3 separate regions of the Homo sapiens genome follow, and all the other regions are linked to region 1. Evidence: fine-mapped expression QTL. A gene starts in region 1. Each other region holds a variant in brackets. All regions are shown on one strand. Distances are from middle to middle.

Region 1 (4,000 bases):
CATGTTGGTCAGGCTGGTCTCGAGCTCTTGACCTCAAGTGATCCACCTGCCTTGGCCTCCCAAAGTGCTGGGATTACAGGCGTGGGCCACTGCACCCGGCCAAAACTCTTACTCTTTCTGCAATCTCTAACAGTGGGAGAAATGCTCTGGGCAGGTGCTGTAGCAAACACTGACTGCATATCAGGCAGAAAGATCCCAAGATTTGTCCCAGCCTTCAAATGGGACGGCCTACTCTCTCTTCAGTGAGAATACTTCATTTCCATTATTACCCTAACTGCAAACTGTATTCACCCAATTCTGCACCAAAATACAGCATCCCCAAGAAGAGAACTTTTTTTTTTTAAGAGACAGAGTCTCACTCTGTTGCCCAGGCTGGGGTGCAGTGGAGCGATCATGGCTCACTGCAGCCCGAACTCCTGGGTTCCAGCGATCTTCCCACCTCAGCCTCCCAAGTAGCTAAGACTACAGGTGTGTGCCACCATGCCTGGCTAATTTTCTTTTTTTATTTATTATTACTATTATTATTGGAGAGAAAAGGTGTTACTGTTACCCAGGTCCCAGACTCCTGGCCTCAAGCAGTCCTCCCACCTTGGCCTCCCAAAATGCTGGGATTACAGGCAGAAGCCACTTCATCTGACCAAAGAGAATTCTCAAATCACCCTGTTCTCCACTTTCTTTTTGAGACAAGGTCTCACTGTGTTGCCTAGGCTAGAGTGCGGCGGCACCATGACGGCTCACTGCAGCCTCAACCTCCTAGGATCAATCAATCAATCCTCCCACCTCAGTCTCCCAAGCAGCTGGGACTACAGGCGCGCGCCACCACGCCCAGGTAATTTTTCCTATTTTTAGTAGATACCGGGTTTCGCCATGTTGCCTAGGCTGGCCTCAAACTCCTGGGCTAAAGAGATCCACCTGCCTCGGCCTCCCAAAGTGCTGGGATTACAGGAGAGAGCCGCTGCGCCCGGCCCGTCTCCACTTTTAAAATTTCCAGTGACAGAAATTGTGGAAAGCAACACGAGTTGTATGTGTTTTAATATCCTAGATTCGAAGACAAACATAAATGTAAATAAAAACTGTCAGAGCTCTCTGCAATCTTCAGTTTGGGTCTTCCAGGCTGCTGCAGCGTTGTTCACAAATCCACACACCTCTAAAGGCAGGCACAGAGCGCTTTCCTGGGTAGTCGGGTGGCCTGTTGGTAGTTGCAGGCTTCTGGTTTCCCATCTTAATGGCGATGGCAGGGCAACCTGTATTGGTGGTGCTTTTGCACAAGCAGTTCTTTCTGCCGGGAACGCCCTTCCCCAGCCTTTGCCTTAATGAATACCACTCTCTCTTCAAATCTCTGCTCAACAGGGGCGCCTTTTTGACCAGCTTAGTCGTTAGACTCCCTAATACAGTTCATAGTTTTCACATTTTTGTAGAATCTATTCAAGTTCTAACTCCCCGCCATGCTCGCCGGCGCTCAAGCCTAGTACCATGGCAAGCAAAGATGCGGAGTTAATAAAACAGAATTATACGGTTTATCATTCTCAACACTAAACCTGCGCACCCTTTTCCGTTAAGTAGTTCCTAATAGTCCAGCACAGCCTTCCGCCCGGCCCCGCCCTCGCCTGGCTCCACTCTGCTCCTGCGCTTTGGGAATCGAAGCTGGGGCGTTCTCCAACCCCCCCGCGCTGGAAGCCTTCACTATTCTCCTCCCTGTGGGTGGAGCGAAGTTTGGGCACTTGGGTCCTACCGTTGTTATTAGTCTTTACTCGTAATTGATACTAAAGAACAAAATTAAATGGGTTTATTTTTGGTGAAAAGTTAATTCTCCTTATGTTTGGATTTGCCCCTCATGCACCAAATGGTACAGCCCCACATCAGTCAGGCTGCCTACCCCTGACGCCTGCGACGGAGAGGCGCCTTCCGTGCTGTCGTCATCACGTCGGCCGGAGCTAGCGCTGCGTCCTGGGCCACGCCTCCCGGCGCACCGACGCGCCTCTCCGGTTACTAAGCGGCCTTGGATACCTGGCCGCGGGATGCTGGGCGGCGTCAGGTGAGCGGTGGTCGCTGGGCCTCAGGTAAAGGGCGCCAACAGTGGTGGGCCGGCTGGGGCGTTGGTGCGGCCTGGGAGCTGGCGAGGGACTCGCCGCACTCTTCGAGGCCGCTGGGCCGGTCATAGAACATCCAGGGTCCCCCGGGGTGAAGTAAACTGTGGGCGCGGACGTAGCCCGGGTTCCTGGCGCCCCGGCTGGGCGCCCATCTCCACGGCCTCGGGTGGTGCAGGTGTTTAGTCGTTCCGCTGACTATGAAAGAGCATGGGACGAGGAATCGTACAGTCTTAATCTCTCTTCTGTCGTGGCTGCGACCCCTCGGTATTCATGTGGGAAAATACTGATTTGACTGGTAATGTTATTGAAGAGAAAGCGAGAGAATGGTTTGGCAGCGTTACCCAAATATTTGTTATTTTTATAGTTTTAAAGGCCTTATACTATTATTAAGGAAATGCATTTCTGGCTAAGTCTGACAGTACAGGAACGCAGACCTGCTACTCTCACCAGGGGCTGAACTAACAGAACAAAAAAAGATAGATGTATCACGGTGGTGGGACCATGGAGGGGGCAGTTTTTCAACTGGACAAAATGATGTTAAAGTGCTTAAAGAAGGATAAATATGTGAAAGTAGCCAGGAAAATTCTAAAATTAATGCTAATAAGGGAGATTAGCTCTCCAGAACCACCAGATATTATAACATAAAGGTATAGCAATTAAACTAGCATAGAAGATGGGTGCAGCAGTGTGGGCCCGTAGTCCTGGCTACTTGGTAGGCTGAGGCGGCAGGATCCCTTGAGCCCAGGAGTCAGAGACCAGCATGGGTATCAAAAGGAAACCCTGTCTCTGAAAATAAATAAATTAATTTAAAAAGTTTGGGACTCAGCAGGAGCTTACAGGTAGATAAAATATATTAGAACTCAGAATAAGAGCGATTTATATATAGGGATTTATTATATAGGCGAGGTGGTACTGTATTTCAAATCAGCATTGAAGAGATGAATTGGGGTCAGGCAGCTTTTTTAGCAATTTAGAAAATAATTAAACCAGTCGAGCGAGGTGGCTCACACCTGTAATCCCAGCACTTTGGGAGGCCAAAGCGGGTGGATCACTTGAGGTCAGGAGTTCCAGACCAGCCTGGCCAACCTGGTGAAACACCGTCTCTACTATGGCGCGCGCCTGTAATCCCAGCTACTGGGGAGGCTGAGGCAGGAGAATTGCTTGAACTTGGGAGGCGGAGGTTGCAGCGAGCCGAGATTGCACCACTGCACTCCAGCCTGGGTGACAGAGCAAGACTATGCTTTGAAAAAGAAGGAAAAAAAAAAGGAATGAAGCCCATTTTGAGCACCACAATAATTTCCAAATGGACTAAAATTTAAATGTTAAAAAATTACATCACGAATTAGCCGGGTGTGTTTGGGCGCCTGTAGTCCCAGCCGCTTGGGAGGCTGAGGCACGAGAATCTCTTGAATCTGGGAGGCAGAGGTTGTGGTGAGCCGAGATCGTGCCACTGCACTCCAGCTTAGGCCACAGAGCAGACTCTCTCAAAAAAAAAAAAAAATTACATCATGAAGTACTGAAGTAAAGCATTGTTGAATTTATTTATAATCTTAGAATGACAAAAAACTCTTCTAAGTGTTTCATGTCATCCAGAAGCCAGGAAGGAAAAGATTCATACTTTTAACTCTATAAAATTTAAAATCTATATGGCCTGCAAAATTCAACCAAACCAAAAAAACTACCAGAAGCCAAATAAACTTATGAAAATGTTTGTTTAATGATCAATTAGAAAATTATGAAACCCGACTGGGTGCAGTGGCTCATGCCAGTAAACCAGCACTTTGGGAGGTTGAGGTAGGAGGATCACTTGAGGTCAGGAGTTCAAGGGCAACATAGCGAGACCTTGCTTCTACAAAAAATTTAAAAATTAGCTGGACACTGGTGCGCGCCTGTAGTCCCAGCTACCCATG
Region 2 (4,292 bases), 28 kb after region 1:
ATGGTGAGTGCCTGTAATCCCAGCTACTCCAGAGACTGAGGCAAGAGAATCACTTGAACCCTGGAAGCGGAGGTTGCAGTGAGCCAAGATCATGCCACTGCACTCCAGCCTGGGCAGTGGAGCAAGACACTGTCTCCAAAAAAAAAAAAAAAAAGTAATATTGTAGAAATGTTACAATAATTGTAGAAAAAATGAACAATACAGAGATAAAGCAAAAGAAAAAAAATTCCCCCATCGCACTACTCCAAGACTCTAAGACAGCCCAGGTTGACATATTATTCACTTTCTCCTACTTTTGCTTTGCCTTATTTTTATTTATTTGCCTCGTAAGCTTTAAAGTAGAATAGCAATATAATTTATAGTATAGGTCAGGCATGGTGACTCATGCCTATAATCTTAGCACTTTGGGAGGTTAAGGAGGTAGGATCACTTGAGGCCAGGAGTTTGATACCAGCCTTGGCAACATAGTAAGACCTGTCTCTACGAAAAAGTTAGCTGAGTGTGGTGTTATGCTCCTGTAGTCCTGGCTACTTGGGAGGCTGAGGCAGGAGGATCACTTGAACCCAGGAGTTCGAGGCTGCAGTGAGCCATGATTGTGCCACTGCACTCCAGCCTGGGAGACAGAGTGAGACCCTATCTCTAAAAATGGGAAAAAAATTATAGTATACTTTTTTTTTAACCGAATGATGTGTTGGAAGCATTTTCCCATGTTACTGAAAACCCTTTATAATATGAAATTTAACTGCTGAAGAAGGTTGCATCATTCTGAATTACTTTTTTGTGAACATTTGGATTTATTTCTAATTTTTTGTGACTATAACTACACAACTGGGCATAGAATTTTTTATGTTTCAGACTGCTTTTGTTGCATATGTTAATAGTTTCAGCAACAATGTGTGAAAGAACTTATTTCACTAAAATTCGACTAGCGCTGTTTATATCATATTTTCATATTTATTTATCTGATAGGAAAAAGTACTTTGTTTTTATTTGTTAAAAGTTACAAGTATTGAAAATTTTTCTTATTAACCAGTCATTATTTTATGACTCTCTCATGCTTGTGCCTTAGTTTTCTGGTTTTTTTTTTTTGAGACGGAGTCTCACTCTGTCGCCCAGGCTGGGGTGCAGTGGTGCGATCTTGCTTCACTGCAACCTCCGCTTCCCAGATTCAAGTGATTCTCATGCCTCAGCTTCCTGAGTAGTTGGGATTACAGGCATGCACCACCATGCCTGACTAATTTTTGTATTTTTAATAGAGACGGAGTTTGGCCATCTTGGCCAGCCTGGTCTCGAACTCCTGGCCTCAAGTGATCCACCCGCCTCGGCCTCTTAAAATGCTGGGATTACAGGCATGAGCCACTGCGCCCAGCCTTGCCTTAGCTTTCTTTGAGACTGAGTCTTACTCTGTTGCCCAGGCTGGAGTGCAGTGGCGCGATCTCAGCTCGCTGCAACCTCGCCTCCCAGGTTCAAGCAATCCTCCCGCCACAGCCTCCCAGGTAGCTGTGGGAGTACAGGTGCGTGCCACCAACCCTAGCTAATTTTTGTATTTCTAGTAGAGACAGGGTTTTGCCTCCCATGTTAGCTAGGCTGGTCTTGAACTACTGATCTCAGGGTGATCTGCCCACCTTGGCCTCCCAAAGTGCTGGGATTACAGGCGTGAGCCACTGCACTCAGCCTGCTTTAGCTTTCTATTTGGATCTTACTTAAATACTTTTTTTTTTGGTACCCATAGGTATCTTTAATTGTACAGACTGTCTTTGAGTTTATCTTTTTTCCCTTTAAAATTATGATCTTCGTTTATAAGATAAACAACAATAGGAAAATGCTGTAGAATCAATTTAATTTTTTTTTTTTTTTT[T/A]AATTTTTAGAGACAGGGTTTCCCAGGCTGGAGTGCATGGTGCAGTCATAGCTCATTGTAACCTCGAGCTCCTGGGCTCAAGTGATTCTCCTGCCCCAGCTTCCCAAGTAGCTAGGACTACAGGTATGCCTCACCACACCCAGCTAATGTAGAATTAATTTATGTTAGTTTTCGTTAAAGCCAAATAAAAAAATATAGAAGTATCTAAAATGAGAGGCAGGTTAAAGTGTAGTAGTTATTATAGTTGGTCTTTCTTTTTTTTGTTTTTTGAGATGGAGTCTCGCTCTGTTGCCCAGGCTGGAGTACAGTGGCGCGATCTCAGCTCACTGCAACCTCCGCCTCCTAAGTTCAAGCGATTTCCCTGCCTCAGCCTCCCGAGTAGCTGGGACTACAGGCGCATGCCACCACACCTGGCTGATTTTTTTTTATTTTTAGTAGAGACGGGGTTTCACCATGTTGGCCAGGCTGGTTTTGAACTCTCAACCTCAGGTGATCCGCCTGCCTCGGCCTCCCAAAGTGCTGGGATTACAGGCTGATCCACTGCGCCTGGCCTATAGTTGGTATTTCTAAACTTTAAAATCTGGGTGTGAATTGGCACTCTTCAGTATATAAGACAGTTGCTAGCATGATTCTAATAAGTGTCTGGGTACTAGGATACATGAGATGCACTTTCGGATTTGAGTATCTGACCCTGCTTTGTCATCAATAGAACCAAGGTGGGAAGCTGGCAGTGCTTGGTTCATGTCACATGTTCAGTGATCAATATTTGGACAAAGAAGAAAACAGCAAAATCATGGTAAGCTTTTTCTTTTGTCATATTAATATACAATGTGTATTATTTTCATGTCATTTAAAAAAATACTGGTAAGTTTATTTGCTCATTTAAAAGCAGCTACTCAGAACCCATTATATGCCAGGCACTGAGAATACAAAGTCGAGTCAGGCATAGTCCCAGTCCCTGCTTTGGAAAAGTTTGTAATACACTGAGAGAGAGAGAGACAAATTAGTAAACCCAGAAGGGTGTTTCTGAGCATGTCAGGTGGGGTGGGAGCTGAGCCTGGAGAAGCGGAGAGGAACAGGCTCAATAGCAGTATCACGTGTAAGGCCAAGGAGCTTGAACTTGATGCTGAAAGCCACAGGGAGCCCTTGGGTTTTCAGCAGCCTTGAGCATAGCCAGATCTGTGTTTCTTCTTTTTTTGTTGTTGTTGTTTATGAAAGAACTTCTAGAATGTTTTGGAAAGATTCTTCTGTCAGTTGTGTGGAAAGTGGAAAGGAGGAGGCAGCCTAGAGCCAATTAGGAAGGTGGTGGTGTCACCAGGCAAGGAGAAATGGGGACCTGAATTACGGGAGTCAAGGTGTGAGTGGAGAGGAGGGGCTGGTAGGAATGGGAATTAGGAAAGGCTCTGTAGAGGACTACTCACTGACTGATGTGGCAAATAAAGTAAAGGCATTGCAATTTTGTCAAAAAAATGCCAAGGGAACATGTCTTACGGAAGATGGCAGAGTAGGGAAGCACATGTCTGTACAGCATGTGCCAGAGCTGTCCATTGGTGATTCCAGTGAGAGAAAGAAACGCCTTATAATTGTTATATTGGGAGATTGATAAAGATCTTATTTCTGTGGAATTTACATGAAGTTTCAATGTCTCTAGACACATTATGGGAGATCTAGATATTCTACTTTTTTTTTTTTTTTTTTTTTTTTGACATGGAGTCTCTGTCTGTCACCCAGGCTGGAGTGCAATGGCACCACCTCAGCTCACTGCAACCATCGCCTCACGGGTTCAAGCGATTCTCCTGCCTCAGCCTCCTGAGTAGCTGGGATTATAGGTGTGCGCCACCACACCAGGCTAATTTTTGTATTTTTAGTAGAGATGAGGTTTCACTATGTTGGCCAGGCTGGTCTCGAACTCCTGACTTCAGGTGATCCACCTGCCTCAGCCTCCCAAAGTGCTGGGATTACAGCTTGAGCCACCACTCCCGGCCTAGGTATTCTTCTTTTCAAAAGTTTTAATTTCAGACTGTCATCACAGTAAATAGGGATTAATTCAGGATTGTGAACAAAGGTTAATAAATTTTAGCTTGTGGTTAGAGGTTAGGGTGCTTAAAGATACATTATAAATTTCTGATAATAAAAGTTGCATTATGCTGGTCATGGCAGCTCATGCCTGTAATCCTACTACTTTGGGAGGCCGAGACAGGTGGATCACCTGCGATCAAGAATTCGAGGCCAGCCTGACCAACATGGTGAAACCCCATCTACTAAAAATACAAAAATCAACCAGGCCTGGTGGCAGGCACCTGTAATCCCAGCTCCTCAGGAGGCTGAGACAGGAGAATCGCTTGAACCCAGGAGGTGGAGGTTGCAGTGAGCCAAGATTGCGCCACCGCACTCTAACCAGGGCGACGGAGCGAGACTCTGTCTCAAAAATAAA
Region 3 (4,292 bases), 23 kb before region 1:
AGCTACCCTGGCTCACAGGGGTCTTGTTGCCCTGGGTGTCCCCAGTTCTTGAAAAGAATCAGCCTGGGAGGGGCCACACCCTGACCATCCCCCTTTATCCCTTCTGAGATGTTTGTTAGGAAGTCTGGGTCCAGGGGATATCATTTCTTGTTCCATCCATGCAGGGGTTGCTTACCTCGGGTAGGAAACCCTCAGGCGGTGGCAGGTGCACAGGTAGGGGAGGATGGAGAGGGCAGTGGTGCCTGAAGCCCTGGATGGGCGGAGCTGACCCCCCAACACCAACTCTCTCATGCCTGCTCCTCCCTGTCCCCCCAGAGCTGCCTGATCATTGCTACAGAATGAACTCTAGCCCAGCTGGGACCCCAAGTCCACAGGTGAGTGGTTCTTGGTCCCCCACCCATCATCGGGGGCTCACTTCTTCCCGAGGCTAAGGAAATCTGTGGGTCCCAGACAATGTCAGGGGCTGAGAGGGTTACTGCGAGCACATAGAAATGAGCCACTTGCAGGGTGAATAGAGTAGAGATTTGAAATAGGGCTTCAAGATGAACTGGAAAAATCATGAGATTTGTCATGGAGACACCTGGGTCGTATCCCAACCTGGTTGCCTGTGAGACCCTGGGCAACTCCTCTCTGGGCCTCAGTTTCCTCGCCTATTCAATTAGCACAACAGCCAGCTGCCTCCCAAGGCTGTTTTGAGAAGTGGGTAAGATGGTGGATAAGTGGATTTGTGGGTGGGTAGAAGGAGGGAGGGAGGGAGGGAGGCGGGCAGGCGGGCAGGTGAAAAAAAAAGAAAAGAAAAAGGCAGGCAGGCCTAGTAGAGTTGTTGGAGAAGGGATCAGGGCCTGGGCCAGGAGAAAGGGAGGTAGCCAAGGAGTAGGGATCTGCTGATCATAATCACTTCTTTCTTTAGCCCTCCAGGGCCAATGGGAACATCAACCTGGGGCCTTCAGCCAACCCAAAGTGAGTTCTGGTCCCTCAAGCACCTTTCCTACTTGACTCCCCTCATACCTGGCTCCCCTTGCCTTGGGAATAAAATCCAGATTCTCTGGTCTAGCATTCAAGACTGTCTGCCATCTGGGCCCAGGACCTTTCCCCAGCTCTATCTCCCACAAATTCCCCAGCCTCTGCCCATGCTGAACCCTCTTCCTGCAATGCCACCTAAATGTCTGCATTGTTAGCAACTCCCCACACTTCAGGCCCTTCTGAGGGGCTTTGGGTACCAGAACCCTGCCTTCTATGCAGGCCTTCTGTGCAGTATGTCTGGTTTTATCTCTACCCTCTGCCTGTTGTTTAACTTGAATTTGAGTTCCCCTGGGGCCAGGGTGAATCTTACAAGCCCTCTTTCGGCTGGGAGAACATGGGGTTCTTCGGGGGTGAGGAGGCATGGCTCCTGGAAGGCTCTCTGTATTTCCCCATTCTAAAGTTAAAAAGAAGCCCAGGTTTGTTCTCAGGCACCAGGTTTCCAGACATTGCAAATGCTGATCCGTGTTTTTCCCTCTTCCCCCAGTGCCCAGCCCACGGACTTCGACTTCCTCAAAGTCATCGGCAAAGGGAACTACGGGAAGGTGAGTGACTTGGTGAGGGTGGGAAGCCTGGGTCTTCCCTTCTGCAGCCTCTTCCAGCCCCTGCTGCCACTTGTATGTATGAAGAGAGAGCACTCGCACCTGCAGACAAAAGCAGGGGCAGGCGGGAGGCCTTGTACTGCTGTTGGGAAGTCCAAAGTCACCTACAGGGCCTCAAATTCATGTTTCTTCTCAGGTCCTACTGGCCAAGCGCAAGTCTGATGGGGCGTTCTATGCAGTGAAGGTACTACAGAAAAAGTCCATCTTAAAGAAGAAAGAGGTACCAGAGCTCGGGCACAGGCATTTCTTCTTCTGCTTCTCAAGCCGCAGCCTAGGGTGGCTTTCAAAGATGGGTCCCACCTCTGACAGGTCCATGGGCCTGGGTGCAGAAGTGGTCACAACAAAGGGTAGAGGGGAGGTGGTACGCAGGATGCTGGCCCTTCTCAAAGAAAGCAGGCCAAGCCATCTCACCACAGGGCTTTCAGGAAAACCAGCCTGGCTTTGCCTTCCCCTGGGAAACACAGGCTCCACGATGGACAAGTCTTCTGCCTGCTCCAAGTGCCAGGCTCCCCATCTGTATAATGTGGAGCCCCACTTTATTCTCTCTGAAGACCCTTCATGCCATCAGGCCATA[T/A]GGCTGGAGTGCAGTAGTGCAATCACAGCTCACTGCAGCCTCAAACTCCTGGGCTTAAGCAATCCTCCCGCCTCAGCCTCCCAAAGTGCTGGGGTTAGAGGCATGAGCTACATGCACAGCACATCATGGACTTCTTTTTTTGTTGTTGAGACAGAGTCTTGCTCTGTCACCCAGGCTGGAGTGCAATGGCACCATCTCAGCTCACTGCAACCTCCGCCTCCTGAGTTCAAGTGATCTCATGCCTCAGCCTCCCCAGTAGCTGAGACTAAAGGCACCCGCCACCACTCCTGGCTAATTTTTGTATTTTTAGTAGAGATGGGGTTTTGCCATGTTGGTCAGGCTCCTGGCCTCAAGAGATCCGCTGGCCTCAGCCTCCCAAAGTGCTGGGATTACAGGCATGAGCTACCACACTCAGCCCCATCATGGATTTCTTGATGCCTCAGCTGACCTGAGTTCCTTTAACACCTGACTCCATTAGTAGGCCAGAGCAGGCCCAGAGAGAGGATTGCATAGGAGGTTGGGGGACTCAGAGAAAAGAGAGATTAATGTTAACAAGGTCTCCGTGGGGGGTGGAATGGGAGGTCTTCCTGAGGGAGGCAGCGGTGCAGCTGGCCTTGATGGTGGGATTCTGATGGTCTGAAAAGAGGGTGCGACATCCAGGAAGAGGAAATAGCATGAGCAAATACATGAATATGGATAGTGTGTGGCTTCTTTCCCTTAGGAACTCAGTTATGTAGGCATCACACATGCTTTGCTTTTCACTCCAAGGGCAAGAAGCTCTGATACAGGGGCTAGAGCTGTGCCCACATGAACTAGCTTAGGATGAGGCTGACCACCCTGAGCCCTGAATACTAAGGAAGGAACTTGGGCCTGGCTCTAAGGGCAATAGGGAGCCATTGTGGGTGTTTGAGCAGGGGCATGAGAAAGTCCTGGGTAGGATGACCCCCACCCACAAGCTTATATGGGCTGAGCCGGGATAAAAGAGGCTGTTGTGGGCTGTGACATGGACCCCTCTCTTTGTGACTCCACAGCAGAGCCACATCATGGCAGAGCGCAGTGTGCTTCTGAAGAACGTGCGGCACCCCTTCCTCGTGGGCCTGCGCTACTCCTTCCAGACACCTGAGAAGCTCTACTTCGTGCTCGACTATGTCAACGGGGGAGAGGTGGGTGGGCCCACAGGGAGGCTTCCCTGGGCTGGCTCTCGGCTGGGAGCTGTCCATCCCACATGCCCACTGCATGCCAAGTTCTGGAATGATCTCACTTCATCTTACAATAGACCCATTTTGTAGCTAAAGAAACTGAGGTTCAGGGAGGTAATCATTTGCTCAAGGCCACCCAGCGCATACCTGGTAGAGTCAGGACTTGAATTCAGGTCTGTTAGACTCCCCACCATAATGCTTTCTTGCCTTCCTCATTCAGAGTTGCCCATAGACGCACTTTGATAGGCCCGGGAAAGGTCAATGCTAAGAGGAGCTCGTGGTCAAGGTTTCTAGTGCTCCCATAGGCCACAGGGTGGGATTGACTGGTCACTGTGGTAAACAGAGACCTCAAGGCCACCTGGTGACCCAGAAGCACAGCTGGGACAAGCAGAGCTCCCTCCTGGGCTTCACTCTGTCTCTCTGGTCAAGATGCAAAATGTAGTGGAGCTCCAGTCAGTGACCCCAGATTTAACCTGCGTGATCTCTTGCCTTTCAGAATGATGCTAAGAGGGGGGTTTTTGTCCTGCATCCCTAAGTGAAGGGCTTTCCATGCCAGCAAAATAGTCCAAAAACATTGGCCCATGGGTGGATCTAACCTGAGCTCAGTCTGACAGCCGTATCATCATATCGCCTGGATTGATGGAAAAGCATAATCTTTGAACCACGCAGGTTCAAATGCCAGCTCTGCCAATTATAAGCTACATGACCTTGGGCAAGTCGCCTAACCATTCTGACCCCTCCTAGCTTCCTCTTACATGAAACTAGCATGACACTTGTACCTTGAAGGTTGTCATGAGGATTAAATAAGAGATGTGGAAGGGCCTGACTTGGAACCTGGAACACAGGAGGTGCTTAAGCAATGCTAACTCATCTCTTCTTCTGCTGACTCTTTGGACA

Direction of the effects. Alleles are on the strand shown, and positions count from the first base shown. SD is a standard deviation of normalised expression in the study named. Not every link is listed here.
With allele A in place of T in region 3, the expression in prefrontal cortex of the gene that starts at base 1,943 in region 1 is lower (large effect, 0.81 SD a copy in BrainSeq).

Evidence for each region. PIP is the estimated chance that this variant, and not a neighbour inherited with it, causes the effect. A credible set is the group of variants that fine-mapping cannot tell apart.
Region 2: its variant is the best candidate, but not a certain one, in a credible set for the expression of IFT52 in whole blood (TOPMed, PIP 0.76).
Region 3: its variant is the best candidate, but not a certain one, in a credible set for the expression of IFT52 in prefrontal cortex (BrainSeq, PIP 0.52).

The regions. Positions count from the first base shown.
Region 1 is chr20:43,588,995-43,592,994 of GRCh38, forward strand. IFT52 (intraflagellar transport 52) reads left to right here and starts at 1,943. Exons shown (of 14, transcript NM_016004.5): 1 at 1,943-2,060. RefSeq lists an enhancer at 2,065-2,134.
Region 2 is chr20:43,616,373-43,620,664 of GRCh38, forward strand. It overlaps IFT52 (intraflagellar transport 52), which reads left to right. Exons shown (of 14, transcript NM_016004.5): 8 at 2,568-2,654. Among named protein-coding and RNA genes, the nearest start is that of IFT52, 28 kb to the left of the region's middle. The variant T/A (reference allele first, on the strand shown) is at 1,859.
Region 3 is chr20:43,566,158-43,570,449 of GRCh38, forward strand. It overlaps SGK2 (serum/glucocorticoid regulated kinase 2), which reads left to right. Exons shown (of 13, transcript NM_170693.3): 2 at 316-374; 3 at 911-960; 4 at 1,508-1,565; 5 at 1,759-1,842; 6 at 3,228-3,359. The coding sequence starts at 339. Among named protein-coding and RNA genes, the nearest start is that of SGK2, 9.3 kb to the left of the region's middle. The variant T/A (reference allele first, on the strand shown) is at 2,197.